Regions from separate parts of the Homo sapiens genome. Here all the other regions are linked to region 4. Evidence: fine-mapped expression QTL. A gene starts in region 4. Each other region holds a variant in brackets. All regions are shown on one strand. Distances are between the middles of the regions. Region 1 overlaps KLHL8 (kelch like family member 8). Region 2 has its middle 18 kb from the start of SLC10A6. Region 3 overlaps AFF1 (ALF transcription elongation factor 1). Region 4 holds the start of KLHL8 (kelch like family member 8). Region 5 overlaps PTPN13 (protein tyrosine phosphatase non-receptor type 13).

The links. PIP is the estimated chance that this variant, and not a neighbour inherited with it, causes the effect. A credible set is the group of variants that fine-mapping cannot tell apart.
Region 1: its variant is the best candidate, but not a certain one, in a credible set for the expression of KLHL8 in whole blood (INTERVAL, PIP 0.73).
Region 2: its variant is the best candidate, but not a certain one, in a credible set for the expression of KLHL8 in whole blood (TOPMed, PIP 0.67).
Region 3: its variant is the best candidate, but not a certain one, in a credible set for the expression of KLHL8 in whole blood (TOPMed, PIP 0.72).
Region 5: its variant is the best candidate, but not a certain one, in a credible set for the expression of KLHL8 in whole blood (INTERVAL, PIP 0.78).

Annotation. Positions count from the first base shown.
Region 1 is chr4:87,186,085-87,192,352 of GRCh38, forward strand. The region is part of intron 2 of KLHL8 (kelch like family member 8); the gene reads right to left. Among named protein-coding and RNA genes, the nearest start is that of KLHL8, 31 kb to the right of the region's middle. The variant C/T (reference allele first, on the strand shown) is at 2,821.
Region 2 is chr4:86,864,594-86,870,861 of GRCh38, forward strand. It overlaps the pseudogene RPL6P13. Among named protein-coding and RNA genes, the nearest start is that of SLC10A6, 18 kb to the left of the region's middle. The variant A/C (reference allele first, on the strand shown) is at 2,797.
Region 3 is chr4:87,119,717-87,124,716 of GRCh38, forward strand. All of the region lies in intron 12 of AFF1 (ALF transcription elongation factor 1), which reads left to right. Among named protein-coding and RNA genes, the nearest start is that of KLHL8, 98 kb to the right of the region's middle. RefSeq lists an enhancer at 415-990. The variant G/A (reference allele first, on the strand shown) is at 2,338.
Region 4 is chr4:87,217,832-87,224,099 of GRCh38, forward strand. KLHL8 (kelch like family member 8) reads right to left here and starts at 2,787. Exons shown (of 10, transcript NM_020803.5): 1 at 2,587-2,787. RefSeq lists an enhancer at 1,789-2,401 and silencers at 1,907-2,176, 2,517-3,006.
Region 5 is chr4:86,629,209-86,635,432 of GRCh38, forward strand. PTPN13 (protein tyrosine phosphatase non-receptor type 13) reads left to right here. Exons shown (of 48, transcript NM_080683.3): 2 at 6,044-6,163. The coding sequence starts at 6,049. Among named protein-coding and RNA genes, the nearest start is that of PTPN13, 38 kb to the left of the region's middle. The variant C/T (reference allele first, on the strand shown) is at 3,441.

The DNA of each region.
Region 1 (6,268 bases), 32 kb before region 4:
CTGGAGAGCAGCGGCGCAATCTCAGCTCACTGCAACCTCTGCCTCCTGGGTTTAAGCAATTCTCCTGCCTCAGCCTACCAAGTAGTTGGGATTACAGGCGTGCACCACCACGCCTGGCTAATTTTTGTGGGTTTTGTTTTTTCAGTAGAGACAGGGTTTCACCACGTTGGCCAGGTTGGTCTTGAACTCCTGGCCTCAACTGATTCACCTGCCTCAGCCTCCCAAAGTGCTGGGATTACCAGTGTGAGCCACCACACTCGGCCTCTTTTATATATGTATCTGTAACATACACACAACAAACCATGATTTTCTATGTTATATTTCAGGGACATTTTGTGAATTAATACCAGCAAACATCAGTTAGCACTCATTACATGCCAACCACTATTGTAAGTGCTTTTTTTTTTTTTTTTGAAATAGGGTCTCACCCTGTTGCCCAGGCTGGAGTGCAGTGACGTGATCATGGCTCATTGCAGCCTCAACCTGCTGGGCTCGAGCAATCCCCCAACTTAGCCTCCCCAGCAGCTAGGACTACAGGCATGTGCCACCACACCCAGCTAATTTTTGTATTTTTCAGTAGGGACAGGGTTTTGCCATGCTGCCCAGGCTGGTCTCAAACTCCTGGGCTCAAGTGATTCACGCACTTTGGCCTCCCAAAGTGCTAGGATTACAGGCATGAGCCACAGAGCCTGGCCTTCTAAGTGCTTTTCATATACTAACTCAGTTGTCCCAACATCCCTATGAGTAAGTACTATTATTATCCACAATTTATCAATCAGAAAACTGGAGCAGAGAGTAAATATTTAGTAGTATTTACTATGAGCTCAACTGAGGTTTTTTTTTATTTTCTATTTACATTATCTTGAAATGATATAGCTCACATAAAAGCAGTAAAAAAAAAACACTGCAATCTCATCACCTTAATTATTGAAAAATCAGATAGCTTCCAACAGTATGCTATTACAAATAGCACACTAGTGAACTTCTTTGTAACTAAATCGTTATTCACATTCTCTATTATTCCAACAGATAAATTATTGTAAGTAGAGATGCTGCTTCAAAGGATACAATGTGAATATGTGAATACATAATGTCAAACTGTCCATTTCTGAGCTTCTTACAGTATTTGCACCATATCTTGAGTGTTGTTATTGTTGTTGTTGTTGTACAAAGTCTATGCTGCCCAGGTTGATCTCAAACTCCTAAGCTCATGCAATCCTCCCGCCTCGGCCTCCAAAAGTGCTAAGATTATAGGTGTGAGCCATTGTGCCCGGCCATAGTTGCCAATTTGATGAATAAAAAGATCTCATCTTTTTTTTTCTTTTTTGCTCTTAAGATTGAATCATTTATAAATTTTGAGCTATTTGTATTTCTTCTATGAACTACAAATTTTTTATTTATAAGTACTCATCATATAATCAGAGTATTAGGCATTTGTCATATATATTTCAAACTTCTCTTTTAGTTTGCTTTCAAATTTTATTCTCTTATATAAAAACCCTATGGATTTTTATGTAATTAAATGAAGTCTTTTTATTTATTGTTTTAGGTACCTGCTAGAAATGGGAATCATTCTAATATTCTATATTTACTTCACGTATTTTTTATACTACTTTTATGGTTTTATGTTTTACACTTAAATTTTTACTTACATCTGGAAGTTTTTGGTACTGAGTGGGAAGATATCTTCTTTTTAATACAGTATTTATCCCATTTTCCCAGGAGTTTATAATAATCAAATACAAGTAACAGTTATAGTACTATTTTAACAGTTTTCCTGTTTTCATGTAGTGTTTTGATTATATAATAAACAGTTGTATCTCATTATTTGAGAACTAATTTTAAAATGACAACTCCTAGAGTGTTCAAATGTATAAATGGTTTTGCTTATAAAAGCCCCTTCCTCAGTCTTTTTTCACTAATGTGGAGGAAGAAGCAGTATCACTTATTTCAGAAAGTACAAGACAATCATTTCTGTCTGTTATGCTATATTAAATTTTTTCACAGAACTCACAAGGCAGTATTTAGATTCCATTGAGACTAAAGTTGTAATGTAGACTATAACATAAAGCTTGGCATGTTTTCAAATTCACGTCAGCTCTAAAATGGGATCTGAAATCTGATACTAAATAACTTTTAAATAGCCTAAGCATATCCTTTAAAAAATTATTTCCACATGCCACCACTGGGATTCAGTTTCTATGCAAATATTTGTAAGTCTCACATGACTTAAACCTGCTCCATTAAATAACTTGCCAACACTCTCTTACATAATAGTATCATAAAATAGGGTTCTACAATTTCTAGATAACCATTATTTTAACACTTGCCATCCAAGCTGTACAAATCAATGGCCGGCAAGTCATTTTCATGTTGTTTTTAATAAGATTCTGTCCCTTTACAATTCCATTTGAGTCTTGATTCAAACAAACTAAAATGTGGCTATTTAACACATACACCCCTATGTACCCTTTTAGAATAAATATCCATCTTTATTTTATAAAGATCTTTAAGCCACATGTATAAATAGGAACAGCCAAAAATTTGGCTTTTTAATGCACTGATTCTCCTTTGATGTTATATAGTTAATTACATTCCTGAAAGTTTATTTGTACATTTTCTTTCTCTGGTACAAAAAAATAATTACCAATTACCAAAATCATTTCATTAGAAATTTGAAAATGAAAGGAATCAAAGTCTAAAGACCTGATGTTTAAAATTGGATGAAAAACACACAAGCTACATAATATTAGACATTACCGTGTATTTAGAATTATATAAATACTATATGTCCCTGATACTACTTAATTTTCTAATTTA[C/T]ATTCTTTCTTTGTTAGATCAGTGAACGTGTGACTAATTCAAGATAGTATTACGAAAGAAAAACCTTAGACAATTAAATTTAACGGAGTTTAACTGAGCAAAGACGGATTCAAGAATTGGGCAGTCCTGGAACAAGAATAGGTTCAAAGACACTGGTGCTGGTGCATAGTCGAAAATTATTTACGGACAGAAAAAGGAAGGTGACACACAGAAAACGGAAGTGAGGTACAGAAACAGACGGGTCAGTTACAGCTCAGGGTCAGCCTTACTTGAACACAGGTTGAACAACTGGTTGCCTTTAATTGGCTGAACCTCAGTGATTAGCACAAGAGTAGGTTGCAGTCTGTTTACACAACCAGTTAGGTTACAGTTTACTGTGTACAGAGAAACTTTTAGGCCAAGTTTAAAATACATAAGGTGGGAGCTTCAGGCTAAACTTAACAGTACTCAGGGAAAAATCATGTCACACTTCAGTATTAAAATATGTAGAATATCAACATTCATTAAATGATTCCTTAGACTTTTGTTTAAAAAGCTTGAAATACCAACTATTAATAAAAACTTTGAGTAATTTTCCAGAGATTAGCCAATATGAATGGAAATACAATGAAAATAAGGCTTTTGGATTAGTAAAGCACTTGACTATCAACATACAAAGCATTCCTAACTCCACTAGTTAGGACTTCATCATGGCTCGAGTGCCACTTGCTCGAGCCCGCTCCCACTCTGTGGAGTGTACTTTCATTTCAATAAATCTGTGCTTTTGTTGCTATTGAAAAAAAAAAGAGTTAACATTTATTTTGTAAACTATCTCCACTTCACTTAAAAAAGTTTAGTAAAGGCCGGGCGCAGCTCACGCCTGTAATCCCAGCACTTTGGGCGGGATCCACCGAGGAGGGCGGATCAGGAGGTCAGGAGATGGAGACCATCCTGGCTAACATGGTGAAACCCCGTCTATACTGAAAATACAAAAAAAAAAATTAGCCGGGCATGGTGGCACGCGCCTGTAGTCCCAGCTACTTGGGAGGCTGAGGCAGGAGAATCGCTTGAACCTCGGAGGCAGAGGTTGCAGTGAGCTGAGATTGTGCCACTGCACTCCAGCCTGGGCAACAGAGTGAGCCTCCATCTCAAAAAAAAAAAAAAAAAAAAGAATTTTAGAAAAAGTAAAATTTTATCTTAGTATTATTAACCATTATATATACAGGAAAATTTTCCATATCAGTTGAAAAATGCCCTTCTACTCTAATATACTTTAACATTCATCATTAGCAACTTATGCAAGCATCTTCTTTAATATCTTTTACTCTACATGTATATTATTCATTACTATTTCAATGTTGTTTTGACATTTACATTATGACTTTTTGATTACTGTAAATACTATTATAGTGGATATACAGTTGCATAACTTTGTAGGTAATAATAATCTTGATACTTCAAAATAAAAAATAACCTACTGGCCAGGGGCAGTGGCTCATGCCTGTAATCCCAGCACTTTGGGAGGCCAAGGTAGGCGGATCACCTGAGGTCAGGAGTTCAAGACCAGCCTGGCCAACATGGTGAAACCCCATCTCTATAAAAATACAAAAATTAGCTGAGCATGATGGTGGGTGCCTATAATCCCAGCTACTCGGGGGGCTGACGTGGAAGAATCGCTTGAACCCGGGAGGCAGAGGTTGCAGTGAGCCAAGATCGTGCCATTGCACTCCAGCCTGGGTGACAGAGTGAGACTCTGTCTTTAAAAAAAAAAAAAAAAGCTTACTGTTTAGTCTATTCAGGCTGCTATAACAAACTATCACTGGGTGGCTGATAAACAACATAATTTATTTCTCATAGTTCTTGAGACTAGAAAGTTCAAGATCAAGGCACTGGCAAATCCATGTCTGGTAAGGACTTGCTCTAAGTTCACTGATGCCAACTCTTCTTTGTGTCTTCAGATGGTGGAAGGCACAGAGCAGCTATCTGTGGCCTCTTTTTCTTTTTCTTTTTAATGTCTAAATACAATTTTAATGAGGTACAGATACATGCTCAATTTGTGATCATGAGTTATAACAAATCACAGTTTAGTTATAATTACAAAAATAGTGAAATCAGAATGTAAAGGAAAACCTTTATAAATAAGAACATCCTCAACTTTAAAGATGGCTTAGGTTTCTACATATCTCAAGATCTGCTTTGTATTTAAAATGAATAGTGAAGAGTGTATATATAATATACAAATAAAATAACATTGTGCTTCTTAAAAGCTGTATGTAAAGGGAAATATTTTTTAAATTACTAGAGGCCAGGCATGGTGGCTCATGCCTGTAATCCCAGCAGTTTGGGAGGCTGAGGCAGACAGATCGCTTGAGTCCAGGAGTTCAAGACCAGCCTGGGCAACATGGCCAAACCCCCTCTCTACAAAAAGTGCAAAAATTAACTGGGTGTGATGGTGTGCACCTGTAGTCTCAGCTACTCAGGGGGTGGAGTAGGGTTTGGGTCCAGGAGGTGGAGGTTGCCATGACCCATGACTGCATCACTGTACTCCAGCCTGGGTGACAGAGCAAGACCTTGTCTCAAAATAATAAAATAAGCCTATAATCCTTTCCCCTTATAAAGTAAAAAATAATTTACTATTCCTTCATTCTTACAGTTTTATTTTTATTTTAAATTTATATTTTTCTTTTATTGTAAATATATATACATATTTTGCTTTTTTCAACTTTTACTTTAGAATTAGGGGTGCATGTGTAGGTCTGTTGCATAGATATATTGCATCATGCTGAGGTTTGGTGTATAAATGAATCTATAACCCAGGTAGTGAGCATAATACACAACATAAAATAAACAGTTTATTTCAATTCATACCCCCACCGCCTTCCCTCCTTCCCCCATATTGTATCCACCACTATTTTTCCCATTTTCATGACCATGTTTACTCAATATTTAGTTCCCACTTACAAGTGGGAACAAGTGGTATTTGGTTTTCTGCTTCTTTATTAGTTCACTTAGGATAATGGTTTCCAGCTGCGTGTATGTTGCTGCAAATAACATGATTTCATTCTTTTCTATGGTTGTGTAGTATTCCACAGTGTATATATAACACATTTTCCATATCCAATCCACCACTGATGGGCACCTGGGCTGATTCCATATCTTTGCTATTTGTGAATAGCACTGCAATGAACATGCGGGTATATGTGTCTTTTTGATAGAATGATTTATTTTCCTCTGGGTATATACCCACTAGGAGGATTGCTGGGTTGAATGGTAGTTCAAGTCTCAGTTCTTTGAGAAGTATCCAAACTGCTCTCCACAGTGGCTGAACTAATCTACATTCCCACCAACAGTGTATAAGTGTTCCCTTCTCTCCACAGCCTTGCCAACATCTGTTATTTTTTGACTTTTTAACAAAAGCCATTCTGACTGATGTGAGATGGTATCTCTTTGTGGTTCTGGTTTGCATTCT
Region 2 (6,268 bases), 350 kb before region 4:
AAGGCAGGCCAACATTCAGATTCAGGAAATACAGAGAACACCACAAAGATACTCCTCGAGAAGAGCAACTCCAAGACACATAATTGTCAGATTCACCAAAGTTGAAATGAAGGAAAAAATGTTAAGGGCAGCCAGAGAGAAAGGTCGGGTTACCCTCAAAGGGAAGCCCATCAGACTAACAGCAGATCTCTTGGCAGAAATTCTACAAGCCAGAAGAGAGTGGGGGCCAATATTCAACATTCTTAAAGAAAAGAATTTTCAACCCAGAATTTCATATCCAGCCAAACTTAGCTTCATAAGTGAAGGAGAAATAAAATACTTTACAGACAAGCAAATGCTGAGAGATTTTGTCACCACCAGGCCTGCCCTAAAAGAGCTCCTGAAGGAAGCACTAAACATGGAAAGGAACAACCGGTACCAGCTGCTGCAAAATCATGCCAAAATGTAAAGACCATCGAGACTAGGAAGAAACTGCATCAACTAACGAGCAAAATAACCAGCTAACATCGTAATGACAGGATCAAATTCACACATCACAATATTAACTTTAAATGTAAATGGACTAAATGCTCCAATTAAAAGACACAGACTGGCAAATTGGATAAAGAGTCAAGACCCATCAGTGTGCTGTATTCAGGAAACCCAACTCACGTGCAGAGACACACATAGGCTTAAAATAAAAGGATGGAGGAAGATCTACCAAGCAAATGGAAAACAAAAAAAGGCAGGGGTTGCAATCCTAGTCTCTGATAAAACAGACTTTAAACCAACAAAGATCAAAAGAGACAAAGAAGGCCATTACATAATGGTAAAGGGATCAATTCAACAAGAAGAGCTAACTATCCTAAATATATATGCACCCAATACAGGAGCACCCAGATTCATAAAGCAAGTCCTGAGTGACCTACAAAGAGACTTAGACTCCCACACATTAATAATGGGAGACTTTAACACCCCACTGTCAACTTTAGACAGATCAACGAGACAGAAAGTCAACAAGCATACCCAGGAATTGAACTCAGCTCTGCACCAAGCGGACCTAATAGACATCTACAGAACTCTCCACCCCAAATCAACAGAATATACATTTTTTTCAGCACCACACCACACCTATTCCAAAATTGACCACATACTTGGAAGTAAAGCACTCCTCAGCAAATGTAAAAGAACAGAAATTATAACAAACTATCTCTCAGACCACAGTGCAATCAAACTAGAACTCAGGATTAAGAATCTCACTCAAAACCGCTCAACTACATGGAAACTGAACAACCTGCTCCTGAATGAATACTGGGTACATAATGAAATGAAGGCAGAAATAAAGATGTTCTTTGAAACCAACGAGAACAAAGACACAACATACCAGAATCTCTGGGACGCATTCAAAGCAGTGTGTAGAGGGAAATTTATAGCACTAAATGCCCACAAGAGAAAGCAGGAAAGATCCAAAATTGACACCCTAACATCACAATTAAAAGAACTAGAAAAGCAAGAGCAAACACATTCAAAAGCTAGCAGAAGGCAAGAAATAACTAAGATCAGAGCAGAACTGAAGGAAATAGAGACAAAAAACCCTTCAAAAAATTAATGAATCCAGGAGCTGGTTTTTTGAAAGGATCAACAAAATTGATAGACCGCTAGCAAGACTAATAAAGAAAAAAAGAGAGAAGAATCAAATAGACGCACTAAAAAATGATAAAGGGGATATCACCACCGATCCCACAGAAATACAAACTACCATCAGAGAATACTACAAATACCTCTATGCAAATAAACTAGAAAATCTAGAAGAAATGGATAAATTCCTCGACACATACACTCTCCCAAGACTAAACCAGGAAGAAGTTGAATCTCTGAATAGACCAATAACAGGATCTGAAATTGTGGCAATCATCAATAGCTTACCAACCAAAAGGAGTCCAGGACCAGATGGATTCACAGCCGAATTCTACAAGAGGTACAAGGAGGAACTGGTACCATTCCTTCTGAAACTATTCCAATCAACAGAAAAAGAGGGAATCCTCCCTAACTCATTTTATGAGGCCAGCATCATCCTGATACCAAAGCCGGGCAGAGACACAACCAAAAAAGAGAATTTTAGACAAATATCTTTGATGAACATTAATGCAAAAATCCTCAATAAAATACTGGCAAACTGAATCCAGCAGCACATCAAAAAGCTTATCCACCATGATCAAGTGGGCTTCATCCCTGGGATGCAAGGCTGGTTCAATATAAGCAAATCAATAAATGTAATCCAGCATATAAACAGACCCAAACACAAAAACCACATGATTATCCCAATAGATGCAGAAAAGGCCTTCGACAAAATTCAACAACCCTTCATGCTAAAAACTCTCAATAAATTAGGTATTGATGGGACATATCTCAAAATAATAAGAGCTATCTATGACAAATCCACAGCCAATATCATACTGAATGGGCAAAACTGGAAGCATTCCCTTTGAAAACTGGCACAAGACAGGGACGCCCTCTCTCACCACTCCTATTCAACATAGTGTTGGAAGTTCTGGCCAGGGCAATTAGGCAGGAGAAGGAAATAAAGGGTATTCAGTTAGGAAAAGAGGAAGTCAAATTGTCCCTGTTTGCAGACGACATGATTGTATATCTAGAAAACCCCATTGTCTCAGCCCAAAATCTCCTTAAGCTGATAAGCAACTTCAGCAAAGTCTCAGGATACAAAATCAATGTACAAAAATCATAAGCATTCTTATACACCAACAACAGACAAACAGAGAGCCAAATCATGAGTGAACTCCCATTCACAATTGCTTC[A/C]AAGAGAATAAAATACATAGGAATCCAACTTACAAGGGATGTGAAGGACCTCTTCAAGGAGAACTACAAACCACTACTCAACGAAATAGAAGAGGAAACAAACAAATGGAAGAACATTCCATGCTCATGGGTAGGAAGAATCAATATCGTGAAAATGGCCATACTGCTCAAGGTAATTTACAGATTCAATGCAATTCCCATCCAGCTACAAATGACTTTCTTCACAGAATTGGAAAAAACTACTTTAAAGTTCATATGGAACCCAAAAAGAGCCCGCATCGCCAAGTCAATACTAAGCCAAAAGAACAAAGCTGGAGGCATCACGCTACCTGACTTCAAACTATACTACAAGGCTACAGTAACCAAAACAGCATGGTACTGGTACCAAAACAGAAATATAGATCAATGGAACAGAACAGAGCCCTCAGAAATAATGCCGCATATCTACAACTATCTGATCTTTGACAAACCTGACAAAAACAAGCAATGGGGAAAGGATTCCCTATTTAATAAATGGTGCTGGGAAAACTGGCTAGCCATATGTAGAAAGCTGAAACTGGATCCCTTGCTTACACCTTATACAAAAATCAATTCAAGATGGATTAAAGACTTAAACGTTAGACCTAAAACCATAAAAACCCTAGAAGAAAACCTAGGCATTACCATTCAGGACATAGGCATGGGCAAGGACTTCATGTCTATAACACCAAAAGCAATGGCAACAAAAGCCAAAATTGACAAATGGGATCTAATTAAACTAAAGAGCTTCTGCACAGCAAAAGAAAGTACCCTCAGACTGAACAGGCAACCTACAAAATGGGAGAAAATTTTCACAACCTACTCATCTGACAAAGGGCTAATATCCAGAATCTACAATGAACTCAAATTTACAAGAAAAAAACAACCCCATCAAAAAGTGGGCAAAGGACATGAACAGACACTTCTCAAAAGAAGACATTTATGCAGCCAACAGGCACATGAAAAAATGTGCATCATCACTGGCCATCAGAGAAATGCAAATCAAAACCACAATGAGATACCATCTCACACCAGTTAGAATGGCAATCATTAAAAAGTCAGGAAACAACAGGTGCTGGAGAGGATGTGGAGAAATAGGAACACTTTTACACTGTTGGTGGGACTGTAAACTAGTTCAACCATTGTGAAAGTCGGTGTGGTGATTCCTCAGGGATCTAGAACTAGAAATACCATTTGACCCAGCCATCCCATTACTGGGTATATACCCAAAGGACTATAAATCATGCTGCTATAAAGACACATGCACACGTATGTTTATTGTGGCATTATTCACAATAGCAAAGACTTGGAACCAACCCAAATGTCCAACAATGATAGACTGGATTAAGAAAATGTGGCACATATGCACCATGGAATACTATGCAGCCATAAAAAATGATGAGTTCATGTCCTTTGTAGGGACATGGATGAAATTGGAAATCATCATTCTCAGTAAACTATCACAAGAACAAAAAACCAAACACTGCATATTCTCACTCATAGGTGGGAATTGAACAATGAGAACACATGGACACAGGAAGGGGAACATCACACTCTGGGGACTGTTGTGGGGTGGGGGGAGGGGGGAGGGATAGCATTGGGAGATATACCTAATGCTAGATGACAAGCTGGTGGGTGCAGCGCACCAGCATGGCACATGTATGCATATGTGACTAACCTGCACATTGTGCACATGTACCCTAAAACTTAAAGTATAATAATAATTAATTAATTAATTAAAAAAAAAAAAAAGCACAGGGCCTGGTAGGCCGTGGGGAAGGGCATTACTCAGGGAAGTGACAGGATCTTTTTGGCAATAACATGACTGCCATTTTTAAAAGATCACTTTGGCTGTTGAGGACAGACTATAGGAAAGTCAAAAATGAAAGCAAGGAGGTCAGTTAAGAGGCCTTCTCCATATTCCAAACAAGAGATGATGGAGACTAGGGTGAGGATGATAGAGGTAAGAGAGAAATTGATACATGTGGAATATATTCAGGAGGTAGAGCCCATGATACTTGCCAATAGATTGGACCAAAGAGGAGATGAAGGACCTGGAGGAATCACAGATGACCCCCTGGGTTTCTGGCCTAAGCAATGGAATAAAAATGGTGCCATTTACTGGAATGGGAAAGAAGATAACTGTTCTTAGAACTACAATGAAAAGAGTATATTATGTACAGTGGCTCATGCCTGTAATCTCAGCACTTTGGGAGGCCAAAGCAGGAGGATCAGTTGAGGCCACGAATTTGAAGCTGCAGTGAGCTATGATGGTGCCACTGCACTCCAGCCTGAGCAACAAAGCAAGACCGTATTTCTAAATAAAATAAAAAGGTGAAAAGAGGTTAGAGAAACCTCTGTCCTAGGGAAAGCAAGATCCTGAGATACAGACAATGAGCAAAGGGGAGCCTTTTTCCCTCCATTCTTGCTGCTCTGTCAACTGATGGCGTAGGTCCTGCCTCATCAAGAGTCTGGCCCAGCCCCAGCCCCAGACTTTCTTCTCCTCCTGATGTTAGAACTCTGCTCTCCTCTTTCTTGCCCCTTTCTCCCTTGCAGTTGTGGTAAGGACTAAAGAATATAAATAGAATGCCTAGAAGAGTTTCAAGTACATAATAAATTCTTGTTAATTTTTTTCTTTCTTCTGTTTTTTCTTTGTTATTAGATAAAATGTTTTCACGGATAAAATTTTAATACACTTTGTCAACTGAAAACAAAAAGATTCCATAAATTCCAATAATTCACTATTAAATTTCTATGCTGAGTTCTCTTTCCCATCTTGCAAGATGGTGGGTGAAAAGGTTGAGAAGCCAGATCCTAAAGAGAAGAAACCAGAAGCCAAGAAGGCTGATGCTGGTGGCAAGGTAAAAAGGGGCAGCCTCAAGACTAAAAAGCCCAAGAGGGAGAAGCCCCATTGCAGCTGAAATCCTGTCTTTGTCAGAGGAATTGGCAGGTATTCCCAATCAGCCATGTATTCCAGAAAGGCCATGTACAAGAGGAAGCACTCAGCTGCTGAATCCAAGGTTGAAAAGAAAAAGAAGTTCTTGCAACTATTACAAAACCAGTTGGTGGTGACAAGAACGGTGGTACCCAGGTGGTTAAACATCGCAAAATGCCTAGATATTATCCTACTGAAGATGTGCCTCAAAAGCTGTTGAGCCACGGCAAAAAAACCGTTCAGTCAGCACATGAGAAAACTGTGAGCCAGCATCACCCCTGGGACCATTCTGATCACCCTCACTGAGCACCACAGAGGCAAAAGGGTGGTTTTCCTGAAGCTGCTGGCTAGTGGCTTGTTACTTGTGACTGGACCTCCGGTCTTCAACCAAGATCCTCTACAAAGAACACGCCAGAAATCTGTCACTGCCACCTCAACCAAAATTGATAATCAGCAATGTAAAAATCCCAAAACATCCTGCTGACGCTTACTTCAAGAAGCAGCAGCTGTGGAAGCCCA
Region 3 (5,000 bases), 99 kb before region 4:
ATTTAGATGAATAACTGAATAAGGAGGTGCATTCATTCAAATCTTTTTTACTTTTTCTAAATAATCGCTTTGCTGACCAAGACACTTCAACTTTTTTGGGAAAGACATTCCAGTGCTATCATTTATGCGTTTTGAAGAGTGAGGAAGGGAAGTTATGATGTGTAGTAGGAAAATGCAGTTTTATTGCAGGGAGTGATTGGTTCAGTCCTTCCCTTCCATCCAAGATCTGACTGTCTTTTCTTGGGTTATTGCTCCAGATCAGCACCCCTAGTTATCGTTCAAAATGAAAGCTCATCCCTTCTGATTGACTAAGGCCACTTACATCTAAATTTCTTCGTGCCTGTTAGTTACCCTGAGGAGAGCACCACAACCATATGCATGTGATAGCTTAGGCTGTTCTGAATCATGCGTTCCCTCACCAAAGAGAAAAACAAGTGGATGAATTTCCCTTTTCTGTAGCACTCACCCCAGTGAACATAACCTGTCTGCACAGCAAGTCCCTGGGCCTGATCTTGGTACAAACTTGAATTGGTGTCCCTTGTGTCTTTTTCATATTGAATCTCCTTCCGAGGCGAATCACAGGGAAGTCCCTGAATTTCCCCAAAGACTGCTTCTCCAGTTTTCTGTGTTGCATGTGCTACCAAGCTCATTTGCTTCCTTTTGGAAGAGGATAATAGAGCCTTAGAATTTAGGTGCGGAAAGAACCTTAGTGGTCCCTTGATCAGCTGCCACCTTTTATAGATGAGATCCAAAAAGGCACTAACATGGCTTGACTGCTGAGTAAAAATAGATCTGCAGCTCAGGCATGCTGCCTCCTCCCAGTCCCGTGAGCTTTCCTCTTTTTCACATGTGTTTTCTCCGTACAAGTGTCTGTTGGGAGGATTCTCAAGAGGCGCACAAGGTCGGCGTACTGGCTCTGGCGCTGCCGGTGAATAAGGTGGTTACCGCGTCAGCCCCGGCTTGGTTCCTCCACGGCCCCCACCACTGCCACTCAGTGCCCACACACATTCCTACTCCACTTTAGCTACTCCTGCAGATGCTCCCATCTTCCTTCACAGCCAAACTCCTGGTTCACTACATCTTTCCATCTGCTAGAATCTCTATGGCACCAAATAAGTGTCAGTTCTGGAAAAAGCCACCTTTTCCCTGCTTCCTACAAGTGTCTGCTTGGTGAGCTGGCTGCACGGCAGCGCAGCCTGCCGAGAGGCTTTCCCTGACGGAAACTGACTTGGCCCCTTGCAAGCCCATGTCTTCCTTTTATGGCCTTCACTCTTGCCCTGTGCTCCACTGTGGGTGGAGCAGCATCTGGCAGAGATGATCAGGGCTGCCTGACCCAACAGGTTAAGAAAAGCAAACAAGTCTGTGAGGACCAATTCGTCAGCCGGCAGCCTCCCTTTGTGGAAGGTGAGGCACCATCCTTGAGACAACTAACCTAGTAGAAAAAGAATTTCTGAAACCCAGACCTTAAGCCAGATTCCCTGAAGTGGGGATGACCTGGGGATAAACCACAGGGCAAAGGGACTCCTTTTTCCTCCTGAAGAGAGAGTATCACCTCATCTGAATGGCTTCTTGACCCAGAAAAATCTAAAGAACAGCATGCCTCCTGTTTTACGGCAGGTCTTGTTCTTGGAATTTTGGTCTGCATTTCTGCTCACCCAATATTGCATGGCTCCCATGTTAATGACCCTTTCCTACATCCATCCACTTAAAGTTGTAATGCAGTCCTGCATCCAGTGCCCTCAGCTGTGTCCCTGAGCTGTTAAGCTGAATTTCTGTGCCAACTGACAAATACCGAGTGCCTACTCTGGGGAAGCCTCTGTGGCTGTTCCAGACAGAAGATGACAAAGTTCTAAGTGCATAGTGTACAAAAAACCACTAACTTCATGCCCGCTGGCTTGATCTCAACAGTTAAGCAAAATCAGCAGAAGGGGACTTTTGCTTTATTTAGTTTGATGGCTTCCTTTCTACCAGCTTATAGAATATTATCTGCTTCTAGGTTGCTAAATATCAATATAAAGCATATTATTCCAGTAAGTGCCAATGCAGTTGTTAGATGCTGGCGCTGAAGTTAGTGCTCACTGCATTCTCTCTTGTTGGCTGTCTACTTGAGTCACCGATTGGCACAGCCAGAGCTATAACCAGTCTGTGAGGATTGATTTGCCCTGACTTGTATCTTCATGTGTGGTCTATAAGGTCTGCCAGATTGGCTTATAGTCACAACCAGCATGTCCTAAGCAAAATGAAACTATATGAACAAAAATCAGCTCTCATTTCACTGCTAGACTTTGGTGTTTTCTTTAAGAAGTAGCCTTGTTAATGCTTAGTTTTGCCTTGGGG[G/A]CCTTAATGTGTCATTAACTGCCTGGAAATACCTTTCATTTAAAAAAGTATACTTTAGTACCTAATGTTCAATTTAGTATCGATCTGGATATTTTAGCAAATTTTGACTTTTCAAAGACAAAGTTTCTGTCTTGTAATGTTTCTTGGGCCGGCTATACTGCCTTTCATCTAAAACTCACTACAGTTCACTGGGCCGTTTGGTAACAGGGTAACCTGGGCATAATTAGGTGCTTGATTGACAAGAGAGTTACCAGTACCAGAAGTCAGGTTCTATTTTAACCCCATCATTTCCAATTGATTGTTTTTCTCTCCACCATTATTCACTGTCTCTCAAGTGTTAGCACTCTGAGTTGTTGAACGGAGGTTTGTATGCTGCGCAGAGCCCTGTCGCAATGCCCCAGCAAGCTTCTTGTTGGCATGTGGCCACTCTAAATTGTGCTCCAGGATCTGCTATGGGTCCATGCTTGCAGGAGAAACAGCTGTGTAGAATTTCCTATTGCATTTCATTTGTGGGTTTAGAACTCGGTTGCTTATTTCATATTGTCTCCCTTTTCAGTCCTTCAAGGTACATTTTTCCAACTTCTCTAATGAATTATTACATTTCTGAGTAGCTGATATGTTTTTATCTTATCTAAGCAGTATATTTATAATTCCTTCTTTGCATTGGCTAATCTGATTAGTAGTTCAGAACCCAATTTTCAGATTGTCTATAGCAAACTGTGAAGAACTGTGCTGTCAAGTAGAAATAGAATATAAGCCACATATGTAATTTAAACTTTTCTAATACCACATTAAAAACTATAAAAGGGGAGGAAATGGAAAATTAGTAAAAAAAAAAAAAAAAAAAAAAAAATTCTTTTTGAGACAGTCTCATTCTGATGCCCAGGCTGGAGTGCAGTGGCGCAATCTCAGCTCACTGCACCCTCCACCTCCTGGGTTCTAGTGATTCTTGGCCTCAGCTTCCTGAGTAGCTGGGACTACAGGCACGCACCACCACACTCGACTAATTTTTATGTTTTTAGTAGAGATGGAGTTTCACAATGTTGGCCAGACTGGTCTTGAACTCCTGACCTCAAGTCATCCATCCACCTTGGCCTCCCAAAGTGCTGGGATTACAGGCATGAGCCACCGCGCCCAGCCTAACATTTTAATAATTATATCTAATCCAGTATACCTAAAAGATTACTTTAATCAACTCCCAAAATATGTAAGTCTGTTATACATCAGTAAAAAAATCAATATAAAAATATTACATTCTCTTTTTTCTACTAAGTCATTTCAGACTAACACCATTCAAGTTCAGGTGCTCCCTAGATGTGGCTGTGGCTGCAGCTGCCAGATGGTAGCATGCAGGACAGTGAGAACTGATAGCCTCCCGAGGGTACGAGCCTTCACTTGGCCTTAATTTATTTCTTCCTCCTGTATTTTCCCTTCTTAACATTCTCACTTGTGCACATGCCGCAAGATTAAAAACAGGTATCTTTGTAAGCCACTCTGAAGGAAGCCGTTTTGAAACAAGACACTGCATAAATGAATAAAAGTGTCTTTTCCAAAGGAGCCTGTGAAGGGCTGGATGGATGTGCAGATGCAGGCACACTGATTTGTAGGATGCCAGGAGAAGGGAATTTTGTTTTTTTTCTGTTTTCTATTATTTTGTGTGGAGCCAGGCTGCTTATTGGTGTCTGGGCAGATTTGGAGCCTACACATCTTAAATTATTCATTTTTCTTAAACTCGGGAGGAGAGGAAGACACAGGAAAACTGGGACCTCCCACAGTTAATTTGAAGTTTTTTATTTTTTAAGAGAGGATTTCAGGTTTGTTAGGGATTGTCCTAAATTGACTGGTGTCCCAGATTTCTAACTTGGTGACCTGACACTTAGGAAGTTTCGTTCTAAATGCACATGAGAATTAATTGAAGGGTCTCACCCATCACTTACCTGCCACCTGCTAGACAGTATGTGGGCTTCCTCCTGAACCCAGAGCCATGGGAAGGAGGCCGTCAGGGAGTCTGCATGTCAGACTCCTTAGAAAGCTGGTGTATGTGCTAACAAGTGAGGCACAAGAATGCAAGAAAGACTTTCATCGTGGAAGAATTCTGTGTTGTTTTAGTGATTAAATGTATTTAGCACTTTAGTTGGTATAAATGGATGCTTTGAAGGTACTTAAATTCTTTTTTCTTTTTTTTAACCCTACTTTCAAGCTACCAAGTTAGAGATACTTAAATTCAATAGTGACAGATTCCCTTTTCCTTACTCCCACTAAAATATTTACAGTCTTTTCAGGGTTTTTTGAAAAATAAAAACATGTTTCTGTATATGGAGAGATATAAAGACAGTATTAAAAAAATTGAATCAGTGGAGGGGAAAAAATGTTAGCTAGAATCCCAGAGCAATTGTTTCTATTGTTGTTATATATCTTTGTAGTCCTTTCTGTAAAATACACGGGATTTTGTAGACGGTTTCCTTTCAACATTGTACTTATTTTTCAGTAGAAAATAAAGTAAGCTTTAAGTAGTCCATTTTGAATTTTATACAAACAATAAACTAGTGGGTTTAAGTGGATGGTTCTTTCGAAAGAAGTTGGAGGAAACCTCATAAAAAATCATCTCTGTATTATTTGATGTAAATATGCATGTTTTGTGGATTCTTTTCTATTTAGAAAAA
Region 4 (6,268 bases):
AATATAAGTAACCAAAAATTTAAACATTCAATTTATAAAACACAAAAACTATCTGAAATTAATGTTTAAGATGTCTGCAATAGTCTCTTTAATCTTTTTAAAATGACAATATCCATTTCAGTTCTCTACAACTCTCAAAAGTTCTTGATAAAAACAAAAGGGTTATTTGTCCAAACCCACAGAATGTTTAACACCAAGAATGAATCCTAACTGTGGATGTGATAACATGTCAATGTAGGTTCATCAATTGTAATATACGTACCACTCTGATGAGAGATTTTGGCTCTGTAGGGGTAGGCGATACATGGGAAATCTCTATACCTTCCACTCAGTTTTGTTGTGAACTTACAACTGCTCTAAAAAAGAAAATTCATTTTTCAAAATAGCAGGTGGGATCAAAATTTACCCAACTTTTTTTTTTTTTTTAGATGGAGTCTCGTTCTATTGCCAGGCTGGAGTGCAGCTGCGTGATCTCAGCTCACTTCCACCTCCCAGGTTCAAGTGATTCTCGTGTCTCTGGGACTACAGGCATGCGCCACCATGCCCAGCTAATTTTTTTGTATTTTTAGTAGAGATGGGGTTTCACCATGTTGGCCAGGATGGTCTTGATCTCCTGACCTCTTGATCCGCCCGCCTCGGCCTCCCAAAGTGTTGGGATTACAGGCGTGAGCCACCGCGCCCGGCCCTAACTTTCTTCTTAATGAATGAAGAAATACTGTTTTTAAAAAATAACCCTCACTGAATGTGAACTGAGTTTCTTGTCAAAAAATGTGCAATTATTACAGAATATATCATCTTAACCAATTATCAGTAATCTTATCAAATGCTAAAAGAATTGGCAGCTTTAAAAATTAAAATGATGAAGCTAAGTGCTCATATGTAGTTGAATAGAGTATCCTTAGACTTTTTTTTTCTTTTTTTGAGATGGAGTCTCACTCTGTCGCCCAGGCTGGAGCGCAGTGGCATGATCTCGGTTCACTGCAACCTCCGCCTCCCGGGTTCAAGCCATTCTCCTGTCTTAGCCTCTCGAGTAGCTGAGACTACAGGCATGTGCCACCACGCTCAGCTAATTTTTGTTATTTTTAGTAGAGATGGGGTTTCACCATGTTGGCCAGACTGGTCTCGAAAATCCTGACCTCAAGTGATCCCCCCGCCTCAATCTCCCAAAGTGCTGGGATTACAGGCGTGAGCCACTGCACCCGGCCCCTGAGACACCTCTTTTTATATTTAGGCTTACGCAATTTTGGTATCTTGAAAGCAATTTTTTTAAAAAGTGACGAAATAAATAAAGTGACTAAAAGTTTGAAGTTTGAACTGGGTCAGTTTGACAAATTAAGAAGGGTGCCAGGAGGAAGTCTGAGGAAAAGCAGCAGCTTAATGCCACCGCCATCTCCAAGCAGCGTTCCAGGCGCCAGCACTGTTAGCAGCAGTCCTCTGCGTACCCAAGAGTACCGCAGGGCCAGAACACGAGAAAGATGCGCGAAGAGGATTTCCTTCTAGAGAGAGAATAAAGAACACCAAGAGTCCAACAATTACCATCTTGTATAGGAGAAAAACAATGCAAAGGAAAAAACGTGCAACCAGCAGATAAAATACTTATGTCAACCCAGGTTCTAAGGACCTTTTCCCAAAGTATCCCTCTAAACTGGTAACATTAGCTTAGGGCAGAGTCAAGAAGAAAGTTATGCCATTAACACAGATGAAAATACTGAACGTTTTCTATGAAAAGTCACCCGATTAAACACTGCCAAGAGGGAAAAACAGTGCAAGTCCAGTAAAGCACGAGACACGTAGAAAATTCAAGCTATGTAGCCAAATCGCTCTCTCTGAAGAAAACAGCAAGCCAACTGAACCCAGCACGGAGTGGAAGGCGTAAAGAGCTGTCATCGTGGCGGTAACAACTCCACCGGGCGGCTGAGCGTCTAGAAAGAGGCTGCGGTTCCTGGTTCCACATCAGGAGGCACTCTCCACAAGGTCTACACCGCCGCTCCCGGGAAGGCACCTCCAGGGCGGCCAGCAAGCCCCCCGAGTGGGGACAGGCAGTGCCTTCCTCGCCTCGTCCCCGCGCGGCGTGGCCCGGAGGTGGCCCACTCGCCCCGCCCCCGCAGGCCGCGGCTCCAGGGGGCGTCCGGCCGCCCTCCCGGGGCCCCGAACCCGCGCCAGCCGCACCGCGCCTGCCCTCTTCCTGGACCCCGCGAAGCACCTGCCTGGGCCCCTCTTCGAAAGACTGGGAGGAAGGAGTCAAGGAGCTGCCGGGGAGGCTGACAGAGCCAGAGGCTGGAGCTCCCCTACGGGAGCCGGGAGCATAACCCTGCTCCTCCCGCCAATGGGGGCGACAAAAGCCGTGGAAGGTTGCTCAGGGGCTGGATCTCCTGCTGTCCGGGCCCCAAGCCCTCTCAGCTGTGGAGTTTCGGTTGGTGCACGAGGGCTCGAATTTCCTCCGCACACCGGAGACCCAAGACGGGACGGTGTTGCGACTTGGGGGCTGGGGTGAGGGAGGGCTCGGCGCGAGCGGACGGCACCGCACAAAGGAAGAGGGGACTGAGGGGAGACGAGGGGACTGAGGGGAGACGAGCGTCCCGTTACCTCGATCCTCGACCCTGTTCTTCCTGATGTCGCTAAGGTTGCAGCCACGTTACCACGCTCCCAGAGCCCCGGCCGCCCTCAGCGGAACCTCACCAACCCCGCGCGAGCACCCGGCGGACGCGCGCTCTCCTGCGCGGCCCCGCGGAGCCCCGGCGGGCGCTTGGCGTCCTCTCGCCTCAGCCCCCGCGAGCCGCGGCCTCTGGGGGCGGGGCGGGCTGGGCGGGGCTGCGCACGGCACTCTGGGAAGTGTGGTTCTCGGGACCTCCTCCCCGAGGCCACCCCCACGGCCTCGCCCCCGCGGCTCCCTAGTGGGCGGCCGGGTCTCAGGGACTGGGCAGTGTTGCCCGGCCTGGTGAAGGCGGACCAGGGCGTGGCGGAGGTCCCCATAACAAATCTTGAAATAAAACACTGCCTAAATACCTTTGAGCTTATCCATGCTTCACTTCTGCGGCGGTACAAAATTTAGTTTCTTTGTATGTCCATCAAATCCCCTTCTGCGGTTGTGAGTGTTCCTGGGATTTATGTCTTTGAAAAAAGAAGGGGAAAAAAAGGTTTGCATTTATTCCTGTGTCACTTTCACCACGTGCTCTACAAAGGATATACAAAACAACTGTGTTTATAAATACACACCCACAGTTTGTAAACCTAAGGAAGCAGTTGATTGACCTGAGAGCTCGCTGCTAAAAAGCAGTGCAAGTGGCCATGCGCGGTGGCTCACGCCTGTAATCCCAGCACTTTGGGAGGCTGAGGCGGGCGCATCACGAGGTCAGGAGTCGAGACCATCCTGGCCAACATGGTGAAACTCCGTCTGTACTAAAAATACAAAAATTAGCTGGGCGTGGTTGTGCGTGCCACCAATCCCAGCTATTCGCAAGGCTGAGGCAGGAGAATTGCTTGAACCCGGGAGTCGGAGGTTGCAGTGAGCTGAGATTGTGCCATTGCACTCCAGCCTGGCGACAGAGCAAGACTCCGTCTAAAAAAAAAAAAAAAAAAAAAAAAAGCAATGCAAGTAAAAGTGCTGTTGAAATGAATTAATTTTTCTATAATGTCAATAAAGTGGAATGTGTGAGGCGGGAGATCAAGAGACAGCAAAAAAACAAAATTTTTTTTAAAGAAAGATATTCCCCTAAATGTGTCTTTTGCCAGACTAACCTCAAACTTTCACAATCCTAGGAGTCTATTTCAGAATAAATTTAATCCTAGGACCTTTATTAATATTAACACATATGAACATTAGCACATTGATTTTAATAGAAATGAACATATATATATCTGTATATATATATGCATCTTCTATAAAAACCCCAAAGCAACTATTTGAATTTGAAATTTTATTTCTAGAAAAAAAATCACATTTTTTACATTGAAATATAAATAATTCTTAATATTTCAAAATATTCCTCTTTAGAGCATTAGTATTTTGCACATTTAATGCAAATACCTTTAGAAAAATAGAGTAAGATGAGTTTTAAAGAAGTATGCAGTGAAGAAAAGTCATAAAATGTGTCTGGAACGTGATGTAAAAATTGTTGGGACTCAGAAATCGATACCCCAAAATATGGTGCTTTGCCGCGCTGAACTGAGGAAGCAGCTTCAAGGTGTCTCTTACCTTCCCCATTACCCCTCCTGCCTCTCAATTCTTTGTCTCTCCCAAAGCACCAAATGATGTCGTTCTCTGAATTTCCCTTATCTGCCTAGAAACTAGACCTGCCAAAGAGGAACATATTTGCCTTACCTGATTTTTCATTTACTTAACTCATATTGGAGGAAGAAAGACTGAAGTCTGTCAACACTCTTGGACAGACTTTTGTCACAAACTATTGTCTGCTGTATGGGCTCAACACACTTTTTCCCAGGCCATTGTATGTTCCCCATTTTCCCCTAAAAGTCCTTTACTATACCTTAAGTTGCCACATTTCCCCAATCTCCCTTTCCCCCATAAAGAAGAGTATATAAACGTCTCTACCCCATTGAGTCATTGGGTAATCATTCTCCTGAAATCTCCCTGTGTTATGCACATTAAAATAAATTTTGTATGTCTTTTTTCCTATTAGTCTGCCATTTGACAGTTGATTTTTCAGTGAACCTTCCAAGGGAAAAGGGAAAGCTTCCCTGTATTCCCTTTATTAAACATAAAACACAATATGTATTTTATTTATTTATTTATTTTATTTTATTTTTTTGAGACGGAGTTTTGCTCTTGTCGCCCAGGCTGGAGTGCAGTGGCACAATCTCAGCTCACTGCAACCTCCACCTCCCAGGTTCAAGTGATTCTCCTGCCTCAGCCTCTGCAATAGTTGGGATTACAGGTGTCTGCCACCACGCCCGGCTAATTTTTGCATTTTTAGTAGAGACAGGGTTTTACCATGTTGGCCAGGCTGGTCTCGAACACCTGACCTCAAGTGATCCACTCGCCTCAGCCTCCCAAAGTGCTGGGATTACAGGCATGAGCCACCACGCCCGGCCTACAATATGTATTTAGTAAGACCATGTTAATAGAAATTTTGTTTTTTATAGCCTAAGCTTTTATTTTATTTTATTTATTTTATTTTAGAGACAGAGTCTCACTCTGTTGCCTAGGCTAGAGTGCAGTGAGTAGCACAATCATGGCTCACTGTAATCTTGATTTCCCCGGCTCAGGTGATTCTCCCACCTCCCGAGTAGCTGGAATTACAGGCCCACACCACCACACCTGGCTAATTTTTTTGTTTGTTTTGTTTTGTTTTGTTTTGTTTTGTAGAGATGGGGTTTCTCCATGTTGCCCAGGCTGGTTGTCAAACTCCTGGTCACAAGGGATCTGCCTTTCTTGGCCTCCCAAAGTGCTGGGATTACAGGTGTAAGCCACCATTCCTGGCCACTTTTCTTGTAATAAGGTGCACAGTAACTCCTAAAAATGCTTATAAAAAAGAGCACAACTGCTCTTTTTCTTCTGCTAATTGACATATACACAATAAACTATTTGTAGTTACTAACAAATCAAAGAAATATACACAATATTTCAATATTATTATCATCTATTTATCGAAGAACATTTTTTGAGCACCAGACACTGAGCTAGGAACTGGGAAATACGCAGTAGACAAAATTGAATAGTCCCTGCTCTCATGGAGACTTAGGATCTAGACTCGGAGACAGAGAATTAAACAGTGAATAATGAAAAGGTATGCATGGGGTGGCCAGGGGTTTGGGGAGCACCTAAGATACACCTAATCTAGAGCCTTTTATTGGGGCAGAGGAGTCTGGCAAAAATTCTGAAAATTAAATGAAATTTTTAAACCAAATAGCTATAAACTGGGGCAAAAAAAATCTTTCCCTAAAAAGTGATATATCTGTAACAATGCTCTCAAATAATTACTTAAAAATATATACAGTATCTTACAAAATAAGACATACCTCAACTAAAACAAAACACACATTTCCTAAATCGGACGAAATGTCTTCTTAGTTTTTACCCATTCCTCCCTAGCTCCATTTGAGAATAAGCAAGACTAGCCTATAATAAGTAAGGATCTAAGAAATTCCTTCCCTTCCCTCAAAGTCCGATAAATTAAAACTGGAAAGGATCTGATAGCTGTTTGTTCATTTTATGATTGTACTTTAGTCAGAAAAAAATTGCAATATTTTAACCCCAATCAACATTTGCATTTTTTTTTTTTAAATTTGAGATGGAGTCTCGCCTTGT
Region 5 (6,224 bases), 590 kb before region 4:
GCTAATATCCAGAATCTACAATGAACTCAAACAAATTTACAAGAAAAAAACAAACAACCCCATCAAAAAGTGGGCGAAGGACATGAACAGACACTTCTCAAAAGAAGACATTTATGCAGCCAAAAAACACATGAAGAAATGCTCATCATCACTGGCCATCAGAGAAATGCAAATCAAAACCACTATGAGATATCATCTCACACCAGTTAGAATGGCAATCATTAAAAAGTCAGGAAACAACAGGTGCTGGAGAGGATGTGGAGAAATAGGAACACTTTTACACTGTTGGTGGGACTGTGGTTCATTTTTTAACAGTTCTTTCTTTTCAAATAGCAAAGATGTTTAATTTTGATGAATTCCAGTTTATCAATTTTGTTTTTCTAATCTGGGTCATGCATTTGTTTTCATATCTACAAAAACATTGGCTAACTGAAGTCACCATAATTTTCTCCTAACTTTTTAATGGCCTTCAAGACCTTATTGTGTGCAGAAAAGCTTATTGAAAATTATTTTTAAATGAACATTCTTATTACATTAAAAATTCTAAAACCTATGTCTTACTTTTTTTTTAATGGGGTCTTGCTCTGTTGCCCAGGCTGGAGTGGAGTGGTGCAATTATAGCATTGCAGTCTCCACCTCCCAGGCTCAAGCAATCCTCCCATCTCAACCTCTCAGGTAGCTGGGACTACAGGCACGCACCATCATGTTCAGCTAATTTTTTTAAAAAGCATTATTATATATAGAGACGAGGTATCGCTGTATTGCCCAGGCAGTCTTGAACCCCTGGACTCAAGTGATCCTCTCACCTTGGCCTCCCAAAGTGCTGGGATTACAGGCATAAGTCACTGCACCTGGCCATAGTTCTTAAGCTTTTAAGGTCAATTTAATTATTTTTTCTATTTATACATGCAGAAAATTTCAAGGGACCCTTTGAGTGTATAATCTCATTTTCAAATTTAGTCAGTTAACATCCCATAAACACTTTAAACTGCATTCATACAATTAAAAGCCAATTTTTAAAGTATTTCTTGTATCTGACTGACAGAAAAAACCTTCCCAAGTACCCAAATAAGTCTTCTAATGAATGAAAACTTATATAGTAAGACTTATGTATAGCAAGCCTTTAAGGGTCTCTTGTATGTTCCAGTGGCATTTTGTATGTTTTAAAATACAAGCCTCAACCATTTTCTCATTACACTATTTAAATTGGAATCACCATGCGAATCTGTTATTCTAACTCACCTATTTCTCCTAGCTAAGATACTATATATGTACAGATTCTTTAATTTTAAAAAATACTAATATATGGGCTGTGTCTCAAACTTTTCTATACTTAATTCTGAATCTTCCTGGATGAAAAGATGCTTACAATTTTGGGGTTGCCTTCTCAACTCACTGTGGTTTTTTAATGACCAAAGATGTCCTTAGCCTGGATGGTGAGTGAATCCTTGCTCAAACTAGTGGCATACACAGAGCTCCATTTTATAGCTGCTTTGTTCTTGAAACAGCATGTTTCTATTAGCCCTATTTCTTTAGATTCAAGTTAAACATTCCTAATTAATCTGTCTCCAGACAGGTTATTTTATCACTTGATTGGATTTAGTTAATCTGTTTACTGTTCATTCTGTTCTCAATCACTGGTATGTACTAGCTGTGCGTGCCACAATCCTTCAGGATTAAAATGACATCTGTTAGAATCTCCTTGTGGCTTTGTCTCTGTGAGCAGTTTTAAGGTCATGTCAGTAATACCTGTGTTAACCAAAAACATAATAATGATTCTGGTTATGTGATAGAATTAATTTTTCTTATTTGAAATTTTTTTCCAAAAACTTTCTAGTTATCATGCAGCATATAACCTTCAAGAGAATAAAAGTAAATAATATGGCTATGTTTATTGTAAAATTTAACCTTTGTGATAGGTTAATGTGATAACGTCTGTTATATATCTGTACTCCCAAGTTACCTAGTACTGTGTCTAAAGGAAACAATTGAAGCAATAGGCTTTAAAAAATTTTTGTAACTAATTCTGTCCTCATCTGTTGGTTGACTTCAAGCTTTTTTCCCTCCATTTTCTTTTTTCTTTTTTGCATTCCTCTTCAGCTTCTGCATTTCTTTCATTCCCTTGTTATCTTCGGAGCTAATGATCTGAAGTGCTATAACAGTAAAATAAACATGTGAGAGAGAAAGATGGTGCTAGTAGGCAATTTATAAGCTGATAGCTTTGTTGTTTGTTTTCTAGAAAGCTGCTGTAATACTACATTAAATTCTGACATTGGGTAATTAGAATGAGGCAGTTTTAAAAAAATCTTTAAGTTCTTGCCTAGCAAAGCTGTAAATTAAAAATATTAAATCTATTCTGATAGCTTGATGATAACTTTGAAAAACAAATGTTCCTTTCTATGTTTTGGAGTTCTAAGAAGTTCTAACCAGAAATGTTCATAAAGATCCCATATTGAATATACAAAAAAAGTTTAAATAAAAATTAACACGGTATTGATATAATTCGTACCCGATTCAATCAAGCAACAGAGGTATAATTAGCAATCTTTGTAGCTAGAAAAATTAATTGCTGAAAAAATTCTATTGTGTGAGAAGTTACTTTTAACCTTTTCATTTTTTTATTTATAGGGAATAATTATATTTTAAAACCCAATTTATTTTTAAAAAGTAAGGAAAAACAGTATCTTAAGATTTAAAACCTAGTCTGTCTCTTGTGCTCTCTATATATACACATAAATATATGTGTGTATGTATGTATAAAGCCAACATACTGGTTTTACAATGGGATACATAACATATCATCATAAGCAACCTAATTTTGTTCTCCTTCCTTTTGTCCTTCCATCCTTCCTTATATCACCAGAGGAAGTTCTGCCTCTATATAAAAACCCAGATTCATAATTCCCTCCTTGCCCTTTGGTAATACTAATGACTACAGTCACTTAAACTCCATAATTAAAAGTACCTAGTCAGTATATTAATCAACCTTTCAATGTCCATTCAGAGCTAAAACTTTTCCCTTCCCTAGCTAAGATTATCTATAGATGGAAGACAGTGTGATTAGCTTCTCTTTTTGTTGCTTATCTCCTCACCCACTGGCAAGTTGCTATATCTGACCCCATCAGGATCTAAACCAGGGGAAGGAAGAGAGAAAGCAAGGCAAACAGTTTTTGTTGTTGTTTTTCCCACACTCCTGTTGTGAAATTGCTTTACTGTTTTTGAACTTGATATGTGTTTAAGGCTGGCCCTTTTTCTTCGGTGTGCTTTTGTGGGTTCTTCACAATCCTTCACTGGAACTACACTACATGTGACACTCCAGAATTTTTCCCTCCAACTAGCCAGTAACCCCTAACCCCTCTAGCCCTCAGCCTAGTTTTCTTTCAGGCCATTCCACAGTAGAAATAATTCTAATTTGAATCCTTCTTCTTTCTCTTTCTCCT[C/T]TTCTTTCCCTTCTCTCCTTTTCCCCTCCTCCCCCTGCGCCTCCTCCCTTCTTCCTTTTTCTTGGTGGTGGTCTGGGTACTTCAGGTGGAACTCTGGGTAGAATTTTTTAAACAGCTTTTCGAGATATACTTCACATACAATAAAACTTACCCTTTAAAAAAATTCTTTTTAGTTTTTTAGAAACGGTCTCACTCTGTCAACCAGGCTGGAGTACAGAAGCATGATCATAGCTCACTGTAACCTCAGACTCCTGGGCTCAAGCGAGCCTCCCTTTTCAGCCTCCTTAATAGGTAGGACTACAGTAGGCACCACCATGCCCGGCTGATTTTATTTTTTGTAGAGATGAGGGTCTCCCCATGTTGTCCAGGCTGGTTTTGAACTTCTGGCCTGAAGCGATCCTCCTACCTTAGCCTCCCAAATTGCTGGGATTACAGGCTTAAGCCACTATGCTCAGCCTTCACCCTTATAAAGTGTACCTTTAGTTATTTTTAGAATTTTTGTGCAACCATTGCCACTATCTAAATTTTAGGACATTTTAATCCTCTGGGTAGGATTTCATATAGGTCCAAGCTGGCCCTCTGTGTGGCCGTGCTTCCTTGCCCCTCTCTTACCCTGAGCAGTGGAAGTATAGCTGGCTTCTGATACAGTATGTCTCCTCACTCTTGTGTGCCCTCCCTCTCCTGTCTACCTCATGTTGCTGCCTCAGAGTGATAGGCAACACCTTTAGATTCCTAAAGTGTGTATTAGGCACTGCCTGATGTGCCCTCCACTAACTCCAGAGAACATATATCAAGGACTCCCAGGGGTCCCATTAAAGCTTCTTTCACTGGCTTGAGGTGAAAGGAAGGCACCTTTCCACATCCCTCCCACTTTGGAGGAGACATGAAAATCAGCACACAACTCTCTTCAAAGAAATTCTTGTTCTATCTTTGCTCTACTCTTTATACCCTGAGTATATGCGTTAGAGCTATCTAACCAGTTCTCAGACATATTACTTTGGAAATTTGCTACAGGGTAGTCCTTCACACAAGTCATGTTGGTATCTGATTGCTAATATTATCTGATCCCTCTGTTGAAACTTCCAATTTATCAATATTTTTCATGTAGAAGATAACTCACATATCTTTAGAAAGGAATGAAGCTTCTACTTTTTTCTCTTGAATAAATATGCTATTATATAATAAAGTCAATGAGAACCTAGAGACTTTGGTGCAGGCAGGGGATCTAAATAAATAATCGCACTTCTTGTACAACCTAAGTAAAAACGCTTTTGGCTTTTTTAAAGCAGTATCTTATAGTTTCCTTTTAACTTTCACATTGTGTATATAAGTAGACACCCTGGAGGCAGACTTTAAGCATAAAATGTTTTAGTAAACATTTAAAAAGGAAAGTGAAAGGACAAGACTGGCCTCATTTATAGTTGGAATTGCTTTTTTCAGTCAGGATTAAGTACCATAAATGTAAATTAAAAGAAAATAGTAGCTTGTCTTGTTAGTTGAGTAAACAAAGTCAACTTTTATCTAAAACAGATGTTTTTATAGGTTAACTTTTAAACTCCTTATTTGGCTTCTTTTCCAAATCTGCTTCTCCCTTACAGTAGAAATATACTATATATGTTATGCTTAAATTGGTTTTGTCTGGGTAGAAATCTTATGAATCACTCTAAAGAACAATTTTCAAGCTGTGTCAATTTAGGAAAATTTATATAGAAGGATTTTAACTAGTTACATTTTCCTCTTTTAACATGAAAATAGGCTTATTAAGCCCCATAGAAAATCTTAAGTTTTATCAGTATATCATCACTTAACTGAACGCCATTGGAAAAATTGACCTGACAAAAATTTCAGCACAGACACTTATCTGATCTTTTATTAATTCACCTTCTGTAGAATCATATATCAAAGCATGTTCACAAGCATAGCCACTTCCCTTGTCATAGCCACCCAAAATGACATTTTTATTGTTACTATCATTCCTGTGTTACAATAGGGAAACAGAGGTTTAAAGGAAAAGTGACTCTCCCAGGGAAAATGGTGAGTTGCCAACAAAGCTGGGTCTGGAAATACTTAATTGCATTTAGTGCAAAATATACAGTTATAGTATATATATTGGAGATAATAGAAATCAACTAAAGAATGAAAGAAATGTGTTCCATCTTATTCCCAACTTCCCCTACCATGGCTGTAGGTTCTCCTCTCTATTTCTCTCTACTTTTATATCTGGGATGGATAGGATGAAACCTGGAACAGAAATCTGAAAGGCCTTCAGTTCAGTCTGACTGCTTTGGTTTATGATCTGTATTTTGGTGCCTCCTAGTACCCTGGGGTCTCTTCCTTTTTCCGTAAAGCAGTCACCACCCCCATTCTCCAGTTCTGTCTCTGAAGTTGACCGTGTTGGGCTAGGGCAAGTGGTTGTTTTGAGGGTTTTTCCCTCCAATTCCTTTACCTTCTGTGAGTTTAAGATAACATTTAGATTGGTAGCCATATTGAGAAATTAGGTAGACAGGGGGCTTATAGTCTGTCATCACTGATGTAGAGCTTTTACTACTGCAAGTATAGTTAAGTTGCTGATGCATAGACCATCTGTTACCTTTGTTTCCCAGGTAATATGCACGTGTCACTAGCTGAGGCCCTGGAGGTTCGGGGTGGACCACTTCAGGAGGAAGAAATATGGGCTGTATTAAATCAAAGTGCTGAAAGTCTCCAAGAATTATTCAGAAAAGGTAAGCTGCTGCTGCTGCTGCTGTTGTTGTTGTTGTTTCAGTATTGGGTACTTAAAAAACA